Regions from separate parts of the Homo sapiens genome. Here all the other regions are linked to region 1. The links come from fine-mapping of genetic effects on gene expression. A gene starts in region 1. Each other region holds a variant in brackets. All regions are shown on one strand. Distances are between the middles of the regions.

What was found. PIP is the estimated chance that this variant, and not a neighbour inherited with it, causes the effect. A credible set is the group of variants that fine-mapping cannot tell apart.
Region 2: its variant is the best candidate, but not a certain one, in a credible set for the expression of CHD1L in whole blood (INTERVAL, PIP 0.59).
Region 3: its variant is the best candidate, but not a certain one, in a credible set for the expression of CHD1L in whole blood (TOPMed, PIP 0.89).
Region 4: its variant is the best candidate, but not a certain one, in a credible set for the expression of CHD1L in whole blood (TOPMed, PIP 0.54).

The regions. Positions count from the first base shown.
Region 1 is chr1:147,239,939-147,246,113 of GRCh38, forward strand. CHD1L (chromodomain helicase DNA binding protein 1 like) reads left to right here and starts at 2,746. Exons shown (of 23, transcript NM_004284.6): 1 at 2,746-2,892. The coding sequence starts at 2,766. RefSeq lists a silencer at 2,578-3,197.
Region 2 is chr1:147,119,520-147,125,694 of GRCh38, forward strand. No RefSeq gene overlaps it. Among named protein-coding and RNA genes, the nearest start is that of RNVU1-8, 38 kb to the left of the region's middle. The variant C/G (reference allele first, on the strand shown) is at 2,791.
Region 3 is chr1:147,440,861-147,447,035 of GRCh38, forward strand. The region is part of intron 3 of LINC00624 (long intergenic non-protein coding RNA 624); the gene reads right to left. It also overlaps the pseudogene OR13Z2P. Among named protein-coding and RNA genes, the nearest start is that of LINC00624, 74 kb to the right of the region's middle. The variant A/T (reference allele first, on the strand shown) is at 2,705.
Region 4 is chr1:147,005,381-147,011,555 of GRCh38, forward strand. No RefSeq gene overlaps it. Among named protein-coding and RNA genes, the nearest start is that of TRH-GTG1-2, 65 kb to the right of the region's middle. The variant G/A (reference allele first, on the strand shown) is at 2,597.

The DNA of each region.
Region 1 (6,175 bases):
CCACATAGGACAGAGGTCCCTCTGGAGAAGCCACCAAAGGATATAAATCTCTCTTCAGGTTTGTTTTGAGAAAACACCCAAGCAGGAAAGCTGCTGTACAAAATTACTATTGCCCCATTATGCGATTGTGTTTTACTTTTGTCTTAGCATTAATCCTACCTTGTGGGGAAAAGAAAGAGAGCTCAGACTGCTACTGTGTCTGTGTAGAAAGAAGTAGAAATAAGAGACTCCATTTTGGTCTGTTCTAAGAAAAATTCTTCTGCCTTGAGATGCTGTTAATCTGTAACCCTACCCCCAACCCTGTGCTCCCTGAAACATGGGCTGTGTCCACTCAAGGTTAAATGGATTCAGGGCTGTGCAGGATGTGCTTTGTTAAACAAATGCTTGAAGGCAGCATGCTTGTTAAGAGTCCACTCCCTAATCTCAAGTACCCAGAGACACAATACACTGCGGAAGGCCGCAGGGACCTCTGCCTAGGAAAGCCAGTTATTGTCCAAGGTTTCTCCCCATGTGATAGCCTGAAATATGGCCTTGTGGGAAGGGAAAGACCTGACCGTCCCCCAGCCTGACACCCATAAAGGGTCTGTGCTGAGGAGGATTAGTAAAAGAGAAAGGAAGGCCTCTTTGCAGTTGAGATAAGAGGAAGGCATCTGTCTCCTGCTCATCCCTGGGCAATGGAATGTCTCGGTGTAAAACCCGATTGTATATTCCATTGACTGAGATAGGAGAAAACCACCTTAGGCCTGGAGGTGGGACATGTGGGCAGCAATACTGCTCTTTAAGGCATTGAGATGTTTATGTGTATGCACATCAAAAGCACAGGACTTTTTTCTTTACCTTGTTTATGATGCAGAGACATTTGTTCACATGTTTTCATGCTGACCGTCTCTCCACTATTACCCTATTGTCCTGCCACATCCCACTCTCTGAGAAATGCCCGATAATGATCAATAAATACTAAGGGAACTGAGGCTGGTGCCAGCGCAGGTCCTCTGTATGCTGAGCGCCGGTTCCCTGGGCCCACTTTTCTTTCTCTATACTTTGTCTCTGTGTCTCTTTTTTTTCTTAAGTCTCTCATTCCACCCGACGAGAAATACCCACAAGTGTGGAGGGGCAGGCCACCCCTTCACTACCTGATTTTTATTTATTGCTTGTCTCCTCCTTTTAAAATGTAAGATCCAGGAGATAAGTGGCCTCTATCTTCAGTACCATAGAGTGCTTGGCACATAGTATGTAATTCAGTCAGTGTCAGGCCTCTGAGCCCAAGCTAAGCCATCATATCCCCTGTGACCTGCACGTACACATCCAGATGGCTGGTTCCTGCCTTAACTGATGACATTCCACCACAAAAGAAGTTTAAATGGCCCGTCTTTGCCTTAAGTAATGACATTACCTTGTGAAAGTCCTTTTCCTGGTTCATCCTGGCTCAAAAAGCTCCCCTACCGAGCACCTTGTGACCTCTCACTCCTGCCCGCCACAGAACAAACCCCCTTTGACTGTAATTTTCCTTTACCTACCCAAATCTTATAAAACGACCCCACCCCTATCTCCCTTCGCTGACTCTTTTCGGACTCAGCCCACCTGCACCCAGGTGAAATAAACAGCTTTATTGCTCACACAAAGCCTGTTTGGTGGTCTCTTCACACGGACGCGCATGAAAGTCAGTATTTATGAATGACTCAAGACACAAAAATAGCTTCATAAAACAGTGCTTTGCTTGAGTTTTTATGAATAAACCAATCTGAAGTCATCCCTTTTCTAGCTCAGAACAAATTTCTCCCTTTTATTTTAGAGGAAGATGAGAATGGAGGGTACAAATTTAACATGAGTTTACTGAAGAAGGAAGCACCAAGATTAACCTAAATGAGAATACTATTCTAATGACATTAGCCAGAGAATAATATCGTTCCTGTTCCAGTACTGCCAATTACCATTACAAGTCCCAATATCTTCATTTACAATGTGGGGACAATTATAACACCTAATTATTGGTTATTGTGAAGGTTAAATAAGAAAATATACTTAAAGCCCTTAGGACACCACCCAGAACTTCATCAATAAATGCAGCTATTTTGTTATTATCATATTTATATTAGTGGTATACTACATCATAAATCCACTCAAAGCTGATGCTGAGTCACGGTGACCCCTAACTGAACACATTGCCTCAATCTGCTCCCCATAATGCACTTGAGATACCCACTGCCACAATGACGTCTTTGGTGATTTTAATTTACTACTATTCAGAGGTTCCCAATTTTGGCCTACAGGTCACAGGCAGTAAGAAAGGGATTTCAGGGACTAAATCAATTTATCACTAGGTAAACCGAACAAGAACAGTTTGATCTTATCGTGAATCACTGGAGGGCACGGAACAAGTCTTACTTCTAGAACCCCCAGGGCCCAGCGGAGTGTCTGACACATGATAGTCGATGTTGATTAAATAATAAATGAATGATGAACACATGCCACCTCCTTGACGGGCAGTTCAGGCAATCAGACGTCCTGTGCGTGATCAGACGCCTAGCGCTTCAGAAGCACGACTGGTGAGAACTGGGCAGCCCTTCCACGCTCCGCACTGCAAGAACTGCCTGTCCGGAAGGGTGACTGCACCAGCTCCGCTCCGGATATCTTGGCAGGACGCGCCCTCTGGCGGCGCCTCGCTCGTAGGTGGGCCCCAGCGCGCAGTCGCGCGCCCCCGCGCGTTGGGAAGTTGGGAGGGAGGTGCGCGCTTGGCCGCGCGGGGCGGGGCCTCTACCGGCCCGATGGAGCGCGCGGGCGCTACTAGCCGCGGGGGCCAAGCCCCTGGCTTCTTACTGCGGCTTCATACTGAGGGCCGAGCCGAGGCGGCGCGGGTGCAGGAGCAGGACTTACGGCAGTGGGGGCTGACAGGTGAGCGGGCTCCGGGCGGACTTCGGCCAGGCGGGCCAACCTATTGGGACTGCCTCTTGCGGGCCGGGGGCGCAGCGGGTGGGCCGCCCGGTGGGCAGTTTACCCGCTCGCGCCAGGGCCTTCCTTCGCTCCTGCCGTGGGCGGAGAGAAACTGCGCCCGGGCTTGGTGGCCACGGCCCCCGCCTGCGCGGCGCGCGGGGCCGGCGGACGCCAGATGAATGAGGTCGCGGGCCCGGTAGCCAGGCCTGGCCCCTGGCCTGTGGAGGGGAAACGTGGTGAGATCAGCGCCACCTGCAGGCCTCCGCTGAAGAGTTGGACGGCCTGGTGCACCAAGGATGTAGGTTTCCAGTTGCTGTTCCGGTGGGTTTGGGTCCCGGCCTGGGGAGTTTATTGGTTGCTTCTGTAAAACGATCAACTCATCTCCCAGCTTCAGCTTCTCCGTTTACTGTGCGCGCGCAGTTATTGGAGAATTCGCCACGGATTAATTCTCCGGATCGAGTTACGTGCGGTAGTGAGCGGACAAACTCAAGCAAAGCACTGTTTATGAAGCTATTTTTGTGTCTTGAGTCATTCATAAATACTGACTGAACCACGTACTATATGCCAACTTAGCTTGTCCGCTCACCACCGCACGTAACTCGATTTATTGACACTAGCCCTTACGGAGAGTCTGCAAAGCGCGAACCTTGCATGCCCCCCAGCCCTGCCGCTGCATGGCTGACCGTACTTCCTGCAGCTCCGAGACCCCGCTCTCCTCCTGGGTCTGCGCTGACTCGCCGCTGAACCGCCCCAGCCTCGTTTTCCTTACTTATAAGTTGGGAACGTAGTGTGTGCTTTGACTGTATTGACAGAATCATGCATCAGTAATAATACAGTCGTTTATTCATTACTTATTGAATGCTACTGGGAGCGTATTCTTAGGCATTGGCTACAAAGATGAGCAAAACAAATAGGGACCCTTCCTACCTAGAGTTTTAGACTAGTGAGAGTGCATTTAAAAGTATAAACTAATTTATTTAAGTGCTCAGTACCACGAAAGAGTAAGGTTTGTCATTCTAGGAATGAAACAAAAGGTGCAATTCTGTGTTCAGCTTAGAAGACTGAAAGATGAAGTTGAATGGAGAGGACGCTGACATGAAAGAGAAAGACCTCTCTCCTTGATTCCCTGAGTCTGTAAGAATGTGTGGCTGTAAGGAGTATGTATCCAGTTTTAAGTATGAGCTTGTAGACTGGTCTTTTTATGTTTGACTTTATCTTAACGAAAGTTTATGTTTGTGGGTTTGCCTATTTCCTTGCAAGTGTTGGGAATGGTTCTTTAAGAACTTGTGTGAGAGAGGGCTCAGAAAAGTGTGCCAGTTGATACTTAGCTGTGGATAATATGCCAGGAGAAACGTACATATGGGCAAGTGTTTTAGTGAAAATGAGGAGACAAGAGGTTGCAAGTTTGAGTGGATGGAATGGAGTGAGTAAATTCAGAATTAAGTAGGCAAATGTGGCAACTTGGATAAATTGGTAGTGGAGAAGGAAAATAGAAAAGCAGAGTCAAAGGAATGGCTACTGAATATTATAACTTGTAATTTCTATTTCTGTTTACCAGAATAAACTAGTGTTATGAGAAACTATTCTTCATGAGTTGGTTAAAAAAATTCTTACTACTTTTTTTTCGTTTGGTTACAGAAGTAGTACGTATTTTCAGTAAAACATTCAGGGAAATAGCCTATGCATAAAGAAAATAAATATTAATCTCCATAATCTCCTTACTGTTAACATGTTCTCTATCCTGTATAATTTCTTTTACTTTCTGGTGGAGGGGGAAGGTGAAAAATGGAGTTTCATGTACATTTTTTTGGGAAATCATAACTTTTTTTCCTTATCATTCAGTCTTCTTCAACATCATTCTTAATGGTTACAGTTTTTCAGTATATGGATGTACCATAGTTTAGACAGTCCCTCTTCTTGGTATTTAGGTTCTTTTTTTTGCTATTGTAAGTAACATAAATATCCTTGTAACCAAATATTTATTATAGGTATGGACGTTTAATTCCTGAAAGGTACCATTTCTAGAATAAAGAGTATGCAAAATTTTTGCTTATTTCTCTATACTCTCAGCAACACTGGTATTTTCTAATTTGAGAAGTTAATATGCTATCGTATTGTTTAATTTAATGTTTATTTGGTTACCAATATTGATGGACATTTGGATATTCATCTTTGGATCATGAAGTTACCTTAGGACCTTTTTGTTTCTGGAATATGCAGACCTATTACTTCTTGCTGTTTTGCTTGCTTTTTCACTACTTGTCATCTCCCTGACAGAAGGGCAAAAGAATCTACATCTGGAGGTTAAAAAGCTAAAGACTACCTTTCCCAGACCCCACTGTAGTTTGGTTGTAAACGTGACTTGGCTTTAGCCAGGCACGTGACTGGGAGATTTGGAAGGGGAAAGTGAGGGGAAGGACACAGAGGGGTTTGGATTTTCCGCTTCCCACTTAGCTACTACCTCATGGGTCTGTGGGAGGGTACAGAGCATTCATTTTGTTATCATGGATTGTGGCTGCGTTGATAGGTCCCTGGGGCTGACAGTACCGTGGCCTCCTGGTTGGTTCCTGGCTTCCAGGTCGTGGAGGTAGATACTTCCTTGGTGTGTCCATACTGTGGTGCTTGATTTAGCAGTTGTACCCAGAAGATCAGCCTAGATGTTACTCCTCCAGGCCTTTCGACAATTTTGTGGTGATCTAATTCCCTGTATTACATTCCTTTCTGCCTAACCTACCAAGGGTAATTTCTGGTTTTTGCTGTTGACTCCTAAGTGTTAAGTATTGTTATCTTTGTGGATATAATTACATATTATTTTTGAAAATTCAACTTTTTTTTTTTTTGAGATAAGGTCTCACTCTGTTGCCCAGGCTGGAGTGCAGTGGCCCATTGCAGCCTCGACCTGGGCTTCAGTGATCCTCCCACCTCAGCCTTCTGAGTAGCTGGGACTACAGGCATGAGTCACCAGTTTTAAGAAATAATACGGAAGGATCCCATGTAACCTTTACCCAGTTTCCCCTCGTGGTCATATCTTGCAATGTGGCACATTATCACATTGTGTACACTTGCAATGATGGTACACTATCACAACAGGATATTGACATTGGTACAGTCAAGATCCAGAACATTTTCCATCTCCACAAGGATCCCTCAACTTGCACTTTGATAGCTACACTCACCTCCCTTCTACCTCACCAATTCCTTAACCCCTGGCAACCACTAATCTGTTCTCCATTTCTATAATTTT
Region 2 (6,175 bases), 120 kb before region 1:
AGTCTGAAGCACTTCCTACCACCAAATGCCCCCACATCAAGTGCCTTCTCCAACACCACACGGTGAGGGGCTTCATCTTATTTTGAAATGTAATCATAAGTGTTCCCATATTTGAATGCTGTATCTACCATTGAAGAGACATTTTGACCCCTGTAGAGATTTAGACAAAGAAATCCAGAAAGGATAAATCAATCACTCACCCAAGGTTACTAAGGACATTGCTGAAGATACAGCCTGGGAAACTTCATTCTTAATCCAGGACTCTTTTTACTCTAACAAGTTGCCTCCTGTCACAGCCTCCTTCCTATCCTTTAAAACTGAATGGATATGGCCTCTTGCTCCAAAGAACGTGACTATCAAGGAGGAGGAGACATTTGCAATACTGTGACCTCTAACCCCATGGACTTCTTGTCTCTGTTCCTACCCAGGAAATCCTGGTCATGTCATGGCCACATATGTTTAATGGAAAGAAACACCACCTATGTAACTGTCATTGTGGAGGTATGGAGGTGTAGAGTCTCTCACAAGCCTGGGGTTTTGTGTCATCAGGGCCTGTGGTCTCCTTATCTGGGCTGAGCTTGTGGACAAGGTGCTCAGCCAGCCTGCTCTCAGAGGTCCTGCCCCTGGGAGTTGTCAGAATCATCAGGAGTGAGGAGGGCCTTGAGATGCTGATTCAGTAAGAGGAAGGCATCTCTCCCTTCCCGTAACTTGTCCTGTAACTGGGCCGGCTCTCGGGCCTGGGAGTGAACAGAGACTTTATATTGCCTAAGGTGGGATAGTAGAGAAAATTTAGTAGTGGAAAGAGATGAGTGATCAGTTCTAATATCGAAACAAAGGAGCCCTCCACGCAGAAAGTCAGCACATATTAAAGGAAATGCCTGTTGCAAAGAGAAAGAAAAATGTATTTTTTTAAAAAAACAGGTCTTCCCCACTGCGATAGAGAGAGAGAGCTCCAGGAAGATTTTTCAACATTCCATTCATCTTTTTCTTCTGTAACCAAATCAGTTCCAAAAGGATTTTCCTTCAATTTCTCATTTTGCCTGTGGACATTTTCATGTTCAAATACACATCGTGCATTATTCAGTGACTGGACACAAAGCCGTGCACAGAAATGTGGCCAGGTACAACTGGAAACATGAAAGAATAAAAGAATGACAGTGTCAAGAAGGCAATAGTGGTTGAAGAAATGAGAAGCCCAAGTCAGTTAGGAGTTGATTCTGACTAAGAGTAAATGCAGTGGTGATCGCACAGCATCTTGAGTATACTGAATGCTGCTGGGTAGTTCACTTTCCTTTGGTTAATTTTGTGTTATGCAAATTTCACCTCAACAATTACTTGTTAGAAAAAGAGAAAACGAGGCTCTGAGAAATAACTGCAACCCATAAATTACTATTATTGTTCTCTGTTTTATAAATATTTGTGTGACATGTGTCTGCCATGGCAATTCCTGCCCTTCCCCTGGCTCGGCTTAGCTCTTACTTCTCCCCCGCTGAGCTGCTGCACAGAGATTCACACTCCTGCCCACCTGCCTGCCCCCAATGGGGCCCCCTCACCTGAGCTTTCCAGCTTGCCTGAGCTTCTCTGCCAGCTTCTCCTCCTTGAACTGCAGCTCATCCCTCAGCCTAGATTTTATGAGGTCTTTGCACTCTTCACACTCTGAGAAAAGACAGACACACCTGCCTCAGTGGAAGGCTGGACATGCTGTTGCAGTCACTGCCTACAGGGCAGGAGCCAGGTCCATCCCAAGGACAAAACTGTCCCCAGTACCAGGCTCTAGGCAGGGATTGCACATCTTTACTCTTCAGTCTCCTCACTTCCTGGCATCTGATACTCCCCAACTTAGAGATAGGAAAAAAGCTCAGGGGCCCACCAAGCAACTTGACAAGATGATTCACCTGGAATGAGGTAGGGTCAGAATTCACAGCCCCTGAGGTCTGACTCTGAATCATGGGACACTTTCCCAAGCCTTGCAGCCTCTCCTGCACTGGGGCATAAAGTAGTGATTTTCTGTACAGCTGGGAAGGCTTCTAGGACTATGGGACTGTGAAAGGAAAATATCTTGGGCCTCCAAAATCACTAAGGAAAACTCAAGCTGGGAACTGCTTAAGGCAAACCTGCCTCCCATTCTATTCAATCACTCCTCTGCTCACTGAGATAGATGTATATCTGATTTGACTACTTTGGAAAGGCTAATCAGATACTCAAAATAATGTAACCATTTGTGTGTCACCCATCTGTGACCTGGAAGCTCCCTCCCATGGAAGCTCCCTCTCCACTTTGAGTTTTCCTGCCTTTCCTTCAAGATTTCCTGTCTTTCCAGACTGAACCAATTTACTTCTTACATATATTGGTTGATGTCTCATGTCTCCCTAAATGTATAAAACTAAGCCGTGCCCCAACCACCTTGGGTACATGTCGTCAGGACCTCCTGAGGCTGTGTCCTTGTGCGTCCTCAACCTTGGCAAAATAAACCTTCTAAATCAACTGAGACCTGTCTCAGATTTGTTGGGTTCACATTTTGGTAACCACCACGGGGGGATTCTGAGTGGAGATGCCCCTGACCTTTGACAAATCTCCTGTCAGTGCTTGGTACCAGCATGAGCTAACTTTATGGCTCAAGCCAATAGGATAATTTGCTGAGATCTGACAGCACCCCCTCCAGAGAATCCCTGATCTCCCCAAATTTGGTTGAGATCTTAAGTTTATTTTACTGTACAACTCTTCTTTTTTTGGAGTTTTACTTGCTTTCAACAGGAAGGCAAATTTTCCTGCTTCCATGACAATGGAATG[C/G]AGGTAACTCCTTTATGAAGTTTGAGCTTGCTTCTTCCAACAGGGAAGATGAGTTGTTTTCTCTTCTTCTAGGATGGTAGAGAGCAGTCTACAGACTGAGACCAATCACTAGTTAAGAAACTAGTTTGGGATTGTATCTTGCAAATTCCTTTTAAACGACTAAAATAAGCATTTAACAACCAGCTGGTGTTAATTTCTGCTTACACTTAGAGTACTCAGAAATCATATAATTTGGATCTTCCTGCCTTTGCTTCAAGTTGTCCCGCCTTTCCAGACTGAACAAATGCACTTCTTACATATATTAATTGATGTCTCATGACCACCTTGGGCACATGTCGTCAGGACTTCCTGAGGCTGTGTCCCACGTGCGTCCTCAACCTTGGCAAAATAAACTTTCTAAATTAACTGAGACCTGTCACAGATTTTGTGTGTTCACAGGACTGATTTCTTTTTTAACTGGGAATTTTAAGCACCAATATGTGCAAGATTTTAAAAATCATATCTGGATATAATTGCATAAAATATGAGGCATAAGACCATAAGGTCATGAAGGAAATATGCCCAAATACTAATCAAGTTCCTGTTAAGTTAGAAACCGTAGAATGAAGAACTAATAGTGTTTACTCTGTGCCAACAACTGTTCCAGGAGGTTTACAAGCAATAGGTTGTATAATTCATTGTAGCAATTTACCAAGGTAGGTATTATTATAATACCCATGAACAGATGAGGAAACTAAGGCACAGAGAAGATGAGCAACTTGGATGGAGCCCAGGAAACTAGCCCAGGGTCCCTGCTTTACACACTGCTACCTCCACACAGTCTTGGGGGCTCTCTTTTTTCCTCTTTAGAAATAAGAGCCTCAGCCAGGTGTGGTGGCTCATGCCTGTAATCCCAGCACTTTGAGAGGCCGAGGCGGGCGGATCACCTGAGGTCAGAAGTCCGAGACCAGCCTGACCAACATGGAGAAACCCCATTTCTATTAAAAATACAAAAATTAGCTGGGTGTGGTGGTGCATGCCTGTAATCTCAGCTACTTGGGAGGCTGAGGCAGGAGAATCACTTGAACCCAGGAGGCAGAGGTTGTGGTGAGTCGAGATCGGGCCATTGCACTCCAGCCTGGGCAACAAGAAAGAGTGAAACTCTGTCTCAAAAAAAAAAAGAGAGAGAAATAACAACCTGTGCCCCAGGAAGCAAGACTTCCCTGTCACCAGGGTATTCCCTGCTCTTGATGCTGTCACTTATGGATACCACAATTTCTATTAGGTGCAGACTCCTCTTTAAGCTCCTTGGAGTTGGTACTGTGTGCTATCACCACGTTTCCACCAGGGTCCTCAGCATGGAACTTTGCCTATCAGGCCTCAACAGCCTGAACTGAATGGAAATTCATTAGTCCCAGATATGTAGAGCCACAGATTAGATGCTACTTGTCTGCAGGATCTTATATGGTACAGAGAGAATTCTTGTAAACATGATTTAGCCTCTTGCTGAGAAAAACAGGTGGTTCTGTTCCTATGTCAGAAATCAATAACTGGTATTTTAACTCTAGTCCCACCCCACACCAAATTGCAAACATGGAAAAGTTGCTGAATACTTTGTGCCTCTGTTTTCCATCTTTTAAAAAATGAGGTTAAAATATCCTCTTCTGTTTTCCTAGAAGCATGGAAAGGATAAAATTAATTTTGATTAAGAGAGCATTTCATCTCTCAGGGAGAAGATGGGCGATCATTCATCATTTTTGGTATAGTGAGCCTATAGAATTTACTGTACTTCTTCAGCTGGTTGGCCAGGGAGTAGGCAATAGTTTGAGTTATAAGAAATTTCTCTTTGAGGTCTCAGAACTGCTGTTTGCTCTATGCCAGCTGCGAGCGCAATTCTTGGTTGATTTCTAGGATGTTCATCTCTGCCCTCTCACTCAACAAAAGGCTGGCAGATACAGCCATGCTGACATTTATGCCAGAAGAGGTTGAGCCAGGGACTAAGGAGAAGAAACCCAAACACATAATGGGTTGAAGACTAGTGAAATCAAATAGGTTTAATCAGGACTGAGGGATGACAGTAACTGGAATTGTTACCGCTGAGAAAAACTTGATCACTCCCCACAGCACTTTAGAGTCCTTAACCACAAAAACAGAGTTTGAGATGCCAGATATCTGAGCCAAAGTCACTGCCTGTAGCTCAGGCTCTGATAAGAGTGAGGCAGCTAGTGGCCAGCGTGCCAGGTAATGGCCTGCAGTTGCAATAACAAAATTAGAAGGTGGGAGTGTCATGGAATCTTAGGAACCCTGCATTACAATTGCCCAGGGTTTGCTGAAATACAACACCTCCTGGTCTTACCTGAGGGTCACCATTGAGGGGGACCATTCGTTCAGCAGTCATTCTCAGTATTTGTGTACTTTTGTGACAATGCCACAGATCCATCTCTTTCCCAATACAACTAAGCATATCCTCATTGTTCGCTTCTTGTGTGTACAAGGCAGAAACAGTTTCCCAACAGGTTATATTTTCCTTTTTTTCTTTTTTTTATTATTATTATACTTTAAGTTTTAGGGTACATGTGCACAATGTGTAGGTTAGTTATGTATGTATACATGTGCCACGCTGGTGTGCTGCACCCGTTAACTCATCATTTAGCATTAGGTATATCTCATAATGCTATCCCTCTCCCCTCCCCCCACCCCACAACAGTCCCCAGAGTGTGATGTTCCCCTTCCTGTGTCCATGTGTTCTCATTGTTCAATTCCCACCTATGAGTGAGAATATGCAGTGTTTGGTTTTTTGTCCTTGCAATACTTTACTGAGAATGATGATTTCCAATTTCATCCATGTCCCTACAAAGGACATGAACTCATCATTTTTTATGGCTGCATAGTATTCCATGGTGTATATGTGCCACATTTTCTTAATCCAGTCTATCATTGTTGGACATTTGGGTTGGTTCCAAGTCTTTTCTATGGTGAATAGTGCCGCAATAAACATATGTGTGCATGTGTCTTTATAGAAGCATGATTTATAATCCTTTGGGTATATACCCAGTAATGGGATGGCTGGGTCAAATGGTATTTCTAGTTCTAGATCCCTGAGGAATCGCCACACTGACTTCCACAATGGTTGAACTAGTTTACAGTCCCACCAACAGTGTAAAAGTGTTCCTATTTTTCCACATCCTCTCCAGCACCTGTTGTTTCCTTTTTAATGATTGCAATTCTAAATGGTGTGAGATGATATCTCATTGCAGTTTTGATTTGCATTTCTCTGATGGCCAGTGATGGTGAGCATTTTTTCATGTGTCTTTTGGCTGCATAAATGTCTTCTTTTGAGAAGTGTCTGTTCATGTCCTTTGCCCACTTTTTGATGGGGTTGTTTGTTTTTTTCTTGTAAATTTGT
Region 3 (6,175 bases), 200 kb after region 1:
GAACCAGGAAGTCAGCTAACTTATCCACCATCTACACCTAGTAAGCAGTAGAAGTAGGATTTAAAAATCCCCATCTATCTGATTCAAGAGCCCACTCTTTCCAACATATCACCTCCTCTCTAAGATTGAAAAAGATGAGAAAATTACAGTTCATAAAAATGGTTGTGAGCTTATTAGAATGGATAGCTTAATAGAAAGTGGGTAATTCTATCAATTTTTTTCAAGAAATATGTAATGTTGGGCTGAGGATAAATCTTGGATTAATACAATTTAATAAGGTAACATATCTAAGTACATATGTTTAAAATTGTTATACCTTTTAAACTCTGAAAAGATAAATGACCCAAGTGATTTTTAAAAATTAGTATATTTCAAAACAGAGTCTTAAATTTTTATTCTGAAGAGATAATCAGAGATGCTCACATTTATGTGCGAAATTACAGCATTCATAGGGAATGGAGACAACCTGAATGTTTAACCAAAAAGGAGATATGAAGTTTATTTCATATAATGAAATACAATGCATCCCTAAGAAATGAAGCTCATAACTTTTTGTCATTTATTTTTAATTGTGGTAAAATACATATGTTTATTAGTTGACCATTTATAAGTGTACAATTTTATGGCATGAAATACATTCACAATATTGTATAACCATCACTGTTATCTATAACCAAAACTCTTTCATCGTCCTCAACATAAACTCTGTACCTATTAAACGGTAACTCCCCATTTCAACTCACCTTCAAGCCCCTGGTAACCTCTATTCTATTTTCCGTCTCCATTAATTTGCGTGTTCCAGGTATTTCATGTAAGTGGAGTACAAATACAATATTTATCTTTCTATATCTGGCTTATTTTACTTAGCATAATATCTTCAAGGTCTATCCACGTTGTAGTATATATCAAAATTTCATTCCTTTTTATGGCTAAATAACAATTCGTTGTATGTATACACATTTTATATCTGCTGATGGACACTGGGGTTATTTCTGGCAATTGTGAACAAGGATGCTATGAACTGGGATGTACAAACATCTGTTTGAGTACCTGCTTTCAATTCTTTCAGATGTATTCCTAGGAGTAGAATTGCTGGATCATATGGTAGTTCTATGTTTAACTTTTTGAGGAACTGTCAAAATGTTTTCTAAAGCAGCTGCACCATCTTATATTAACATCAGCAATTCACGAGGGTTAAAATTTCTCCACATTGTTGCCAACATTTGTTATTTTCCATTTTCTTTATTATAGCCATTTTAGTAAATAAAAACTAGTATCTCATTGTAGTGTTGACTTGCATTTTCCTAATGACTAATGGTGTTGAGCATCTTTTCAGGCCCTTATTTGTATATCTTCTCAGGAGAAATGTCTATGTCCAGTGTCCACATTTGAATTGGTTGGTTTTTATTACTGTTGTTGAGTTGTAGGAGTTCTTTATATTATGAATATTAATGCATTACTAGATTTCTGATTTGCAGATATTTTCTTCCATTCTACAGATTGTCTTTTCACTTTATTGATGGCATCCTTTGGATGACACTTTCTTAATTTCAACGAAGTAAATGTTACCTACTTTTTCTTTTGTTGTCTGTACTTTTGGTGTTATTTCTATGAAATAATAATCCAAATTCAAATCCAATGACATGAAGATTGTCCCCAATTTTTTTCTGAGACTTTGACAGTTTTAGCTCTTATATTTAGGTCTTTGATCAATTTTGAGTTAATTTTGTATATAGTGTAAGTTAAGGGCCCCACTTCATTCTCTTGCATGTGGATATATAGTTTTCTTAGGACCATTTTCTGGAAAAACTGTTCTTTCCCCATTGAATAGACTTGACATGCATGTTTAAAATCAATTAACCAAGGGATGTGAAGGACCTCTTCAAGGATAACTACAAACCACTGCTCAACGAAATAAAAGAGGACACAAACAAACGGAAGAACATTCCATGCTCCTGGATAGGAAGAATCAATATCGTGAAAATGGCCATACTGCCCAAGGTAATTTATAAATTCAATGCCATCCCCATCAAGCTACCAATGACTTTCTTCACAGAATTGGAAAAAACTATTTTAAAGTTTATATGGAACCAAAAAAGAGCCCACATTGCCAAGTCAATCCTAAGCCAAAAGAACAAAGCTGGAGGCATCACGCTACCTGACTTCAAACTATACTACAAGGCTACAGTAACCAAAACAGCATGGTACTGGTACCAAAACAGAGATACAGACCAATGGAACAGAACAGAGCACTCAGAAATAATACCACACATTTAAAACCATCTGATCTTTGAAAACCTGACAAAAACAAGAAATGGAGAAAGGATTCCCTACTCAATAAATGGTGCTGGGAAAACTGGCTAGCCATATGTAGAAAGCTGAAACTGGATCCCTTCCTTACACCTTATACAAAACTCAATTCACAATGGATTAAAGACTTAAATGTTAGACCTAAAACTATAAAAATCCTAGAAGAAAACCTAGGCAATACCATTCAGGACATAGGCATGGGCAAGGACTTCATGTCTAAAACACCAAAAGCAATGGCAACAAAAGCCAAAATTGACAAATGAGATCTAATTAAACTAAAGAGCTTCTGCACAGCAAAAGAAACTACCATCAGTGTGAACAGGCAACCTAAAAAATGGGAGAAAATTTTTGCAAGCTACTCATCTGACAAAGGGCTAATATCCAGAATCTACAA[A/T]GAACTCAAACAAATTTACAAGAAAAAAACAACCCCATCAACAAGTGGACGAAGGATATGAACAGACACTTCTCAAGACATTTATGCAGCCAACAGACACATGAAAAAATGCTCATCATCACTGGCCATCAGAGAAATGCAAATCAAAACCACAATGAGATACCATCTCACACCAGTTAGAATGGCGATCATTAAAAAGTCAGGAAAGAACAGGTGCTGGAGAGGATGTGGAGAAATAGGAACACTTTTACACTGTTGGTGGGACTGTAAACTAGTTCAACCATTGTGGAAGTCAGTGCGGTGATTCCTCAAGGATCTAGAACTAGAAATACCACTGGACCCAGACATCCCATTACTGGGTATATACCCAAAGGATTATAAATCATGCTGCTCTAAAGACACATGTACATTTATTGCAGCACTATTCACAATAGCAAAGACTTGGAACCAACCCAAATGTTCATCAATGATAGACTGGATTAAGAAAATGTGGCATATATACACCATGGAATACTATGCAGCCATAAAAAATGATGAGTTCATGTCCTTTGTAGGGACATGGATGAAGCTGGAAACTATCATTCTCAGCAAATTATCACAAGGACAAAAAACCAAACACCACGTTCTCACTCATAGGTGGGAATGGAACAATGAGAACACTTGGACACAGGAAGGGGAACATCACACTCTGGGGCCTGTTGTGAGGTAGGGGAAGGAGGGAGGGATAGCATTAGGAGATATACCTAATGTAAATGGTGAGTTGATGGGTGCAGCGCACCAACATGGCAAATGTATACATATGTAACAAACCTGCATGTTGTGCACATGTACCCTACAACTTAAAGTATAATAAATAAATAAATAAATAAGAAAATCAATTAACCATATATGTGGAGGTTGATTTCTGAGCTCTCTGGTCTATCCCATCAGTCTATGACTGTTCTTATTACAGTACCATACTGTTTCAGTTTAGTGTATCGTTATTGTAAGTTTCAAAGCCAGGAAGTATGAGTCCTCTAACTTTATTCTTCCTTTTCAAGGTTATTTTGGCTATCCAGGGCCCCTTGCAATTCCATACAAATTTGAGGAGGGGCTTTTACATTTCTATGAAAATGGCTGCTGGAATATGATATGGATTTCATTGAATCTGTAGATCACTTTGGGTAGTAGTGATAACAAAGTTAAGTCTTTCTATCAATGAACTTAAGACATATTTCCATTTATTTAGGTTTTTCTTTAATTTATTTCAACAATGTTTCGTAGTTTTCAGAGTACAAGTTCTTCACCTCCTTCGTAAGATTTATTCTAACTACCTAATTCTTTTGTGTACTGTAAGTAGAATTGGTGTCTTAATTTCTTTTTTGAATTGCTATTGCTAGTATACAAACACACAACTGATTGTTGTGTGAGCAACTTTGCTGAATTTGCTTATTAGGGCTAGTAGTTTTCCAGAAGATTATTTGATATTTTCTCTATATATGATCATGCCATACTTGTATAGAGGTAGTTTTAGTTCTTCTTTTCCAATCTGGAAAAATTGTTAATATTTTAAAGCTATAGAGATCAAGATTTACGTAAAACAAAAAAAACTACAATGAAATACACTGAAAGGTAGTATTGACTGATTCTGCAGATGACTGAATTATTTATAGCTTTCTGCATGTTCTTAAATTTTTGTAATAAAATTTGTTTTATTACTTGCCAGGCACAGTGGCTCATGCCTGTAATCCCAGCACTTTGGGAGGCCAAGGCAGGCAGATCACAAGGTCAGGAGATCGAGACCATCCTGGCCAAAATGGTGAAGCCTCATCTCTACTAAAAATACAAAAATTAGCCAGGCATGGTGGCACGCGCCTGTAGTCCCAGCTACTCGGGAGGCTGATGCAGGAGAATTGCTTGAACCTGGGAGGCGGAGGTTGCAGTGAGCCGAGATTGTGCCACTGCACTCCAGCCTGGCGACAGAGCAAGGCTCTGTATGGTTTCTTTCTTCTTTGTTTTGTAGCTGTGACACCACTTGAAATAAGCAATCAAACATATGTCACCAAATTCATCTTTTGGGTATTTTCCAACCACTCCAACCTACAAGGTTTGTTCTTCCTGGTCTTTCTGGTCATTTACCTGACACTCTGGGAGAATATGCTCATAATGGTGGCCACCAGATTTAGCCCTCCACATTCCACTGTATTATCTCCTCAGTAACCTGAGCTTCCTGGATATCTGCTACATGTCTACCATCATCCTGGTCATGCTGGTGAACTTCTTCCAGGAGAAGAAGATCATCTCCTACGAAGGCTGCCTTTCCCAGATCTTTTTCCTTGCATCATGAGCCAGCACTGAGGGTGTCTTGCTGGCTGCCATGGCTTATGACCACTGTGTGGCCATTTGCCACCCTCTTCAATATAAGCTCCTAATGAGTGAAAAGTTCTGTTTGGTGACTGGGTTTTGGATGTGTGGGCTGGTCAATTCTGGGACACACACAGCACTGACAGCCACATTCATTCTGTGTAAACCCAACCCAATCAGCCACTTTCTCTGTGTCATCCCATTTTAATTATCCAGTCCCAAAAAATAGCAGTCACTCCCTATTTGCCCCCAATTTTGTAGCTCTAAACAACCACTAATCTGTTTCTGTGTTTTTGGATATTGCTATTCTGGATGTTTCATATAAAGGAAATCATATAATATGTGCCGGGTATGTCTAGCGTCTCTCACTTGATATAATGTTTTCAAGTTTCATCAACATGACAGCATGTATCAGTACTTCATTCCTTCCTACTGCTAAATAATTTCCATCATATAGATATACCAGATTTTATTAACCCATTTATCACTCGATAGACATTTTGGTTATTTTAACTTTTTATGAATAATGCTCCTATAAAAATTTATGTACGAATTTTTGGTAGACAAATATTTTTATATATCCTGGGTGTACAGCTAGGAAAAGAAGTGTTGGATCATATGGTAAATCTATGTTTAACTTTTTAAAGAACTTCCAGACAGTTTTCAAAGCAGTGGCACTGTTTTACATTACTAAAAACAGTGGATGGGGTTTCTAATTTCTCTAAATCCTCACCAATACTTATTGTTATGTCTGCCTTTTATTATAACCATCCTGGTATGTATGAAGCACTACATCAAATACGATTTTGATTTACATTTCCCTGAAGGATAATGACCCTAAGGGTTTTAAGAACCTCCATTTCTGTGCTACTTCTTCACACATGGGAAAACCCGTTGCTATGGGATTTTTGAGCTTTAGTGACTTAACTCTTAACACTGTCTAATGTTTTTATCTTAATTCGGTGCAGGAAAATACTGCAAAGTTTTCAGACTTATACCTTCTCCATATCTAGGCCCTACAGAGCTATTTGATGGCTCTGCCTTTTTCCCCTTCAGAACTCCACAGCAAGCAGTGCCATCACCAGGTTATGAGCAATGGCAGGACCAGAAATCAGGGGCCACAAAGGT
Region 4 (6,175 bases), 230 kb before region 1:
GTGGACCTGCGAGAGAGGATTCATCCTCTTTCTTTCTCTCTGCCCTCTCCTTTGATCAACTTTTATCATTTCATTTGCACCTCAGAAAATGAGGCAAAATCCAGTTTGGGCTTAGGGCCAGAGAAGAGCCCTTGAGGCCTCCCTCTGGAAAACATACTCTCTCAGTTTACCAGAGTTTCCTGTACCAAGGGGAAATTTCCGCAAACAGTAGTGTTATATTCTTTTTGCCTTCCCTCTTTTCCCTTTGCCCAGGGAGGCCAGATGATTGTGAGAACAGGACTTGGGACTTCCTGGGTGTCTTGCCCCCATCCTCCATGTGATAAATAATGGCTGACACCAAGCAAGTGGGATTCGGAGGCAGGGAATCTTTCATTTTCTTCTTCATATACTTCTATGCATTTGTTTGGTTGGTTTTGGCAAGATTTTCTCACCAGAAATGGAGAATTTGTTGGATTTAAAATAAAAAGTAATCAGCCATGTTTTACATTTCTATAAAACACTCAAACCAGGCCATACTCCCCTGCTGTGCCTCAAAATCAACCATAAACTGTCGAGGTCAGGAGGCAGGGCCCTGACACTTAAGCACAGTGTGTTTCCTCAGAATTGGCCAAGTTGACGCCACTCCAATTTCTCAATATACCACAACCCATTAATTGGGGTTTTTAAAAGTGTACATGTATTTTTACCAAAACCCCAGGGCTTCAGTGTTCTCAGCACACAGAAAGACAATCATTGAGACATTGAGTATTGCTGAGGAAGAAGGCTTTAATCAGGTGCTGCAGCTGAGTAGACAGGAGATGAGTCTTAAATCTGTCTCCCTGATTGACTAAAGTTAGGGGTTTATATAGCGCAGAAGAAAAGTTAACTGTGTGTAGGAAAAGAGGAACTAGGGAGGGGTGAGGAAGCACTCGTGATGAGTGAGGGGACTGGCATCTCATTGTCTGGATGCTGTGATTGGCTGAGTTTCAGGTCTCTGATGCTTTTTGAGAGGCCTGAGAGTCCTTTCCTGAGGAAGGAACTCAGATAAAACAAATATAAGTTTGTTTTATAGAATGGCTTGACCTCAGGAGTTTGAAACCAGCCTGGGCAATATGGTGAAACCCTGTCTCTACCAAAATACAAAAAGAAAAAGAGGGTTGCTTCCAAGATGGCTGAATAGGAACAGCTCCGGTCTACAGCTTCAAGTGAGATAGACGCAGAAGACAGGTGATTTCTGCATTTCCAACTGAGGTACCTCGTTCATCTCACTGGGACTCGTTGGACAGTGTATGCAGCCCATGGAGGATGAGCCAAAGCAGGGTGGGGTGTTGCCTCACCCGAGAAGTGCAAGGGGTTGGGGGATTTCTTTTTCCTAGCCAAGGGAAGATGTGAGTGACTGTACCTCGAGGAGCAGTACACCCCTGCCCAAATACTGTGCTTTTTTCCACTGTCTTTGCAACCGACAGACCAGGAGATTCCCTCTTGTGCCTGGCTCGGCAGGTCCCATGCCCATGGAGCCTTGCCTGCTGCTAGCACAGCAGTCTGAGATCAACCTGTGGCACTGGAACATGGCAGGGGGAGGGGGTTCTGCCACTGCTGAGGCTTGAGTATGTGGTTCTATGGTCACAGTGTAAATAAAGTGGTAGGGAAGCTCAAACTGGGTAGAGCCCACTGCAGCTCAGCAAGGCCTACTGCCTCTAGATTCCACCTCTGGGGGCAGGGCATATCTGAATAAAAGGCAGCAGACACCTTCTGCAGACTTAAACGTCTTTGCCTGACAGCCCTAAAGACAGCAGTAGTTCTCCCAGCATGGCATTTGAGCTCTGATAATGGACAGGCAGCCTCCTCAAGTGGGTCTCTGACCACCATGTAGCCTAACTGGGAGACACCTCCCAGTAGGGGCCGACAGACACCTTATACAGGTGGGTGCCCCTCTGGGACAAAGCTTCCAGAGGAAGGATCAGGCAGCAATATTTGCTATTCTGCAGCCTCTGCTGGTGATAGCTGGGCAAACAGGGTCTGGAGTGGACCTCCAGCAAATTCCAACAGACCTGCAGCTGAGGGACCTGCCTGGTTAGAAGGATTAACAAACAGAAAGGAATAGCATCAACATCAACAAAAAGGACATCCACACTAAAACCCCATCTGTAGGTCACCAACATCAAAGACCAAAGTAGTACATAAAACCACAAAGATGGGGAGAAACCAGAGCAGAAAGGCTGAAAATTCCAAAAACCAGAACACCTCTTCTCCTCCAAAGGAACACAAGTCCTCACCAGCAAGGGAACAAAACTGGATGGAGAATTAGTTTGATGAGGTGACAGAAGCAGGCTTCAGAAGGTCGGTAATAACAAACTTCTCCGGGCTAAAGGAGCATGTTCTAACCCATCACAAGGAAGCTGAAAACCTTGAAAAAAGGTTAGATGAATGGCTAACTAGAATAAACAGTGTAGAGAAGAGCTTAAGTGACCTGAAGGAGCTGAAAACCACAGTATGAGAACCTCGTGAAGCATAAACAAGATTCAATAGCCAATTCAATCAAGCAGAATAAAGAATATCAGTGATTGAAGATCAAATTAATGAAATAAAGCGAGAAGACAAGATTAGAGAAAAAAGA[G/A]TAAAAAGAAATGAACAAAGACTCCAATAAATATGGGACTATGTAAAAAGACCAAATCTACATTTGATAGCTGTACTGAAAGTGACAGAGAGAATGGAATCAAGTTGGAAAACGCTCTGCAGGATATTATCCAGGAGAACTTCCCCAATCTAGCAAGGCAGGCCAACATTCAAATTCAGGAAATACAGAGAACGCCACAAAGATACTCCCCGAAAAGAGCAACTCCAAGACACATAATTGTCAGATTCACCAAAGTTGAAATGAAGGAAAAAATGTTAAGGGCAGCCAGAGAGAAAGGTCGGGATACCCACAAAGGGAAGCCCATCAGACTAACAGCTGATCTCTTGGCAGAAACTCTACAAGCCAGGAGGGAGTGGGGGCTAATATTCGACAATCTTAAAGAAAAGAATTTTCAACACAGAATTTCATATCCAGCCAAATGAAGCTTCATAAGTGAAGGAGAAATAAAATACTTTACAGACAAGAAAATGCTGAGAAATTTTGTCACCACCAGGCCTGCCCTAAAAGAGCTCCTGAAGGAAGCACTAAATATGGAAAGGAACAACTAGTACCAGCCACTGCAAAAACATGCCAAATTGTAAAGACCATCGATGCTAGGAAGAAACTGCATCAACTAATGAACAAAATAACCAGCTAACATCATAATGACAGGATCAAATTCACACATAACAATATTAACATTAAATGTAAATGGACTAAATGCTCCAATTAAAAGACACAGACTGGCATATTGGATAAAGAGTCAAGACCCTTCAGTGTGCTGTATTCAGGAAACCCATCTCACATGCAGAGAAACATACAGGCTCAAAATAAAGGGATGGAGGAAGATCTACCAAGCAAATGGAAAACAAAAAAAGGCAGGGGTTGCAATCCTAGTCTGTGAAAAAACAGACTTTAAACCAACAAAGATCAAAAGAGACAAAGAAGGCCACTACATAATGGTAAAGGGATCAATTCAACAAGAAGAGCTAACTATCCTAAATATATATGCACCCAATACAGGAGCACCCAGATTCGTAATGCAAATCCTTAGAGACCTACAAAGAGGCTTAGACTCCCACACAATAATAATGGGAGACTTTAACACCCCACTGTCAACATTAGACAGATCAACAAGACAGAAAGTTAACAAGGATATCCAGGAATTGAATTCAGCTCTGTACCAAGTGGACCTAATAGACATCTACAGAACTCTCCACCACAAATCAACAGAATATACATTATTCTCAGCACCACACTGCACCTATTCCAAAATTGACCACATACTTGGAAGAAAAGCACTCCTCAGAAAATGTAAAAGAACAGAAATTATAACAAACTGTCTCTCAGACCACAGTGCAATCAAACTAGAACTCAGGATTAAGAAACTCAATCAAAACCACTCAACTACATGGAAACTGAACAACCTGCTCCTGAATGACTACTGGGTAAATAATGAAATGAAGGCAGAAATAAAGAGGTTCTTTGGAACCCACGGGAACAAAGACACAACAAACCAGAATCTCTGGGACACATTTAAAGTAGTGTGTAGAGGGAAATTTATAGCAATAAATGCCCACAAGAGAAAGCACGAAAGATCTAAAATTGACACCCTAACATCACCATTAAAAGAAGTAGAGAAGCAAGAGAAAACACATTCAAAAGCTAGCAGAAAGCAAGAAATAACTAAGATCAGAGCAGAGCTGAAGGATATAGAGACACAAAAATCCCTTCAAAAAATCAATGAATCCAGGAGCTGGTTTTTTGAAAAGATCAACAAAATTTATAGACCGCTAGCAAGACTAATAAAGAAGAAAAGAGAGCAGAATCACATAGATGCAATAAAAAATGATAAAGGGGATATCACCACTGATCCCACAGAAATACAAACTACCTTCAGAGAATACTATAAACATCTCTATGCAAATAAACAAGAAAATCTAGAAGAAATGGATAAATTCCTTGACACATAAACCCTCGCAAGACTAAACCAGGAAGAAGTTGAATCTCTGAATAGACCAATAACAGGATCTGAAATTCAGGCAATAATTAATAGCTTACCAACCAAAAAAAGTCCAGGACCAGATGGATTCACAGCCGAATTCAATCAGAGGTACAAGGAGGAGCTGATATCATTCCTTCTGAAACTATTCCCATCAATAGAAAAAGAGAGAATCCTCCCTAACTCATTTTATGAGGCCAGCATCATCCTGATACCAAAGCCTGGCAGAGACAAAACAAAAAAGGAGAATTTTAGACCAATATCCCTGATGAACATCGATGCAAAAATCCTCAATAAAATACTGGCAAACCGAATCCAGCAACACATCAAAAAGCTTATCCACCATGATCAAGTGGGCTTCATCCCTGGGATGCAAGGCTGGTTCAACATACACAAATCAATAAACGTAATCCAGCATATAAACAGAACCAACGACAAAAACCATGAGTATTTCAATGGAGGCCGAAAAGGCCTTCGACAAAATTCAACAGCCCTTCATGCTAAAAACTCTCAATAAATTAGGTATTGATGGGACGTATCTAAAAATATTGAGAGCTATTTATGACAAACCCACAGCGAATATCATACTGAATAGGCAAAAACTGGAAGCATTCCCTTTGAAAACTGGCACAAGACAGGGATGCCCTCTCCCACCACTCCTATTCAACATAGTGTTGGAAGTCCTGGCCAGGGCAATCAGGCAGGAGAAAGAAATAGAGCCTTTTCCTCAATTAGGAAAAGAGGAAGTCAAATTGTCCCTGTTTGCAGATGACATGACTGTATAACTAGAACCCCCCATCACCTCAGCCCAAAATCTCCTTAAGCTGATAAGCAACTTCACCAAAGTCTCAGGATACAAAATCAATGTGCAAAAATCACAAGCATTCTTATACACCAATAACAGACAAACAGAGAGCCAAATCATGAGTGAACTCCCATTCACAATTGCTTCAAAGAGAATAAAATACCTGGGAATACAACTTACAAGGGATGTGAAGGAACTCTTCAAGGAGAACTACAAACCACTGTTCAAGGAAATAAAAGAGGACACAAACAAATGGAAGAACATTCCATGCTCATGGAGAGGAATAAACAATATCGTGAAAATGGCCATACTGCCCAAGGTAATTTATAGATTCAATGCCATCCCCATCAAGCTACCAATGACTTTCTTCAAAGAATTAGAAAAAACTACTTTAAAGTTCATATGTAACCAAAAAAGAGCCCACATTGCCAAGTCAATCCTAAGCCAAAAGAACAAAGCTGGAGGCATCACACTACCTGACTTTAAACTATACTACAAGGCTACAGTAAACAAAACAGCATGGTACTGGTACCAAAACGGAGATACAGACCAATGGAACAGAACAGAGCCCTTAGAAATAACACCACACATCTACAACTATCTGATCTTTGACAAACCTGACAAAAACAAGAAATGCGGAAAGGATTCCCTATTTAACAAATGGTGCTGGGAAAACTGGCTAGCCATATGCTGAAAGCTGAAACTGGATCCCTTCCTTACATCTTATACAAAAATTAATTCAAGGTGGATTAAAGACTTAAATGTTAGATGT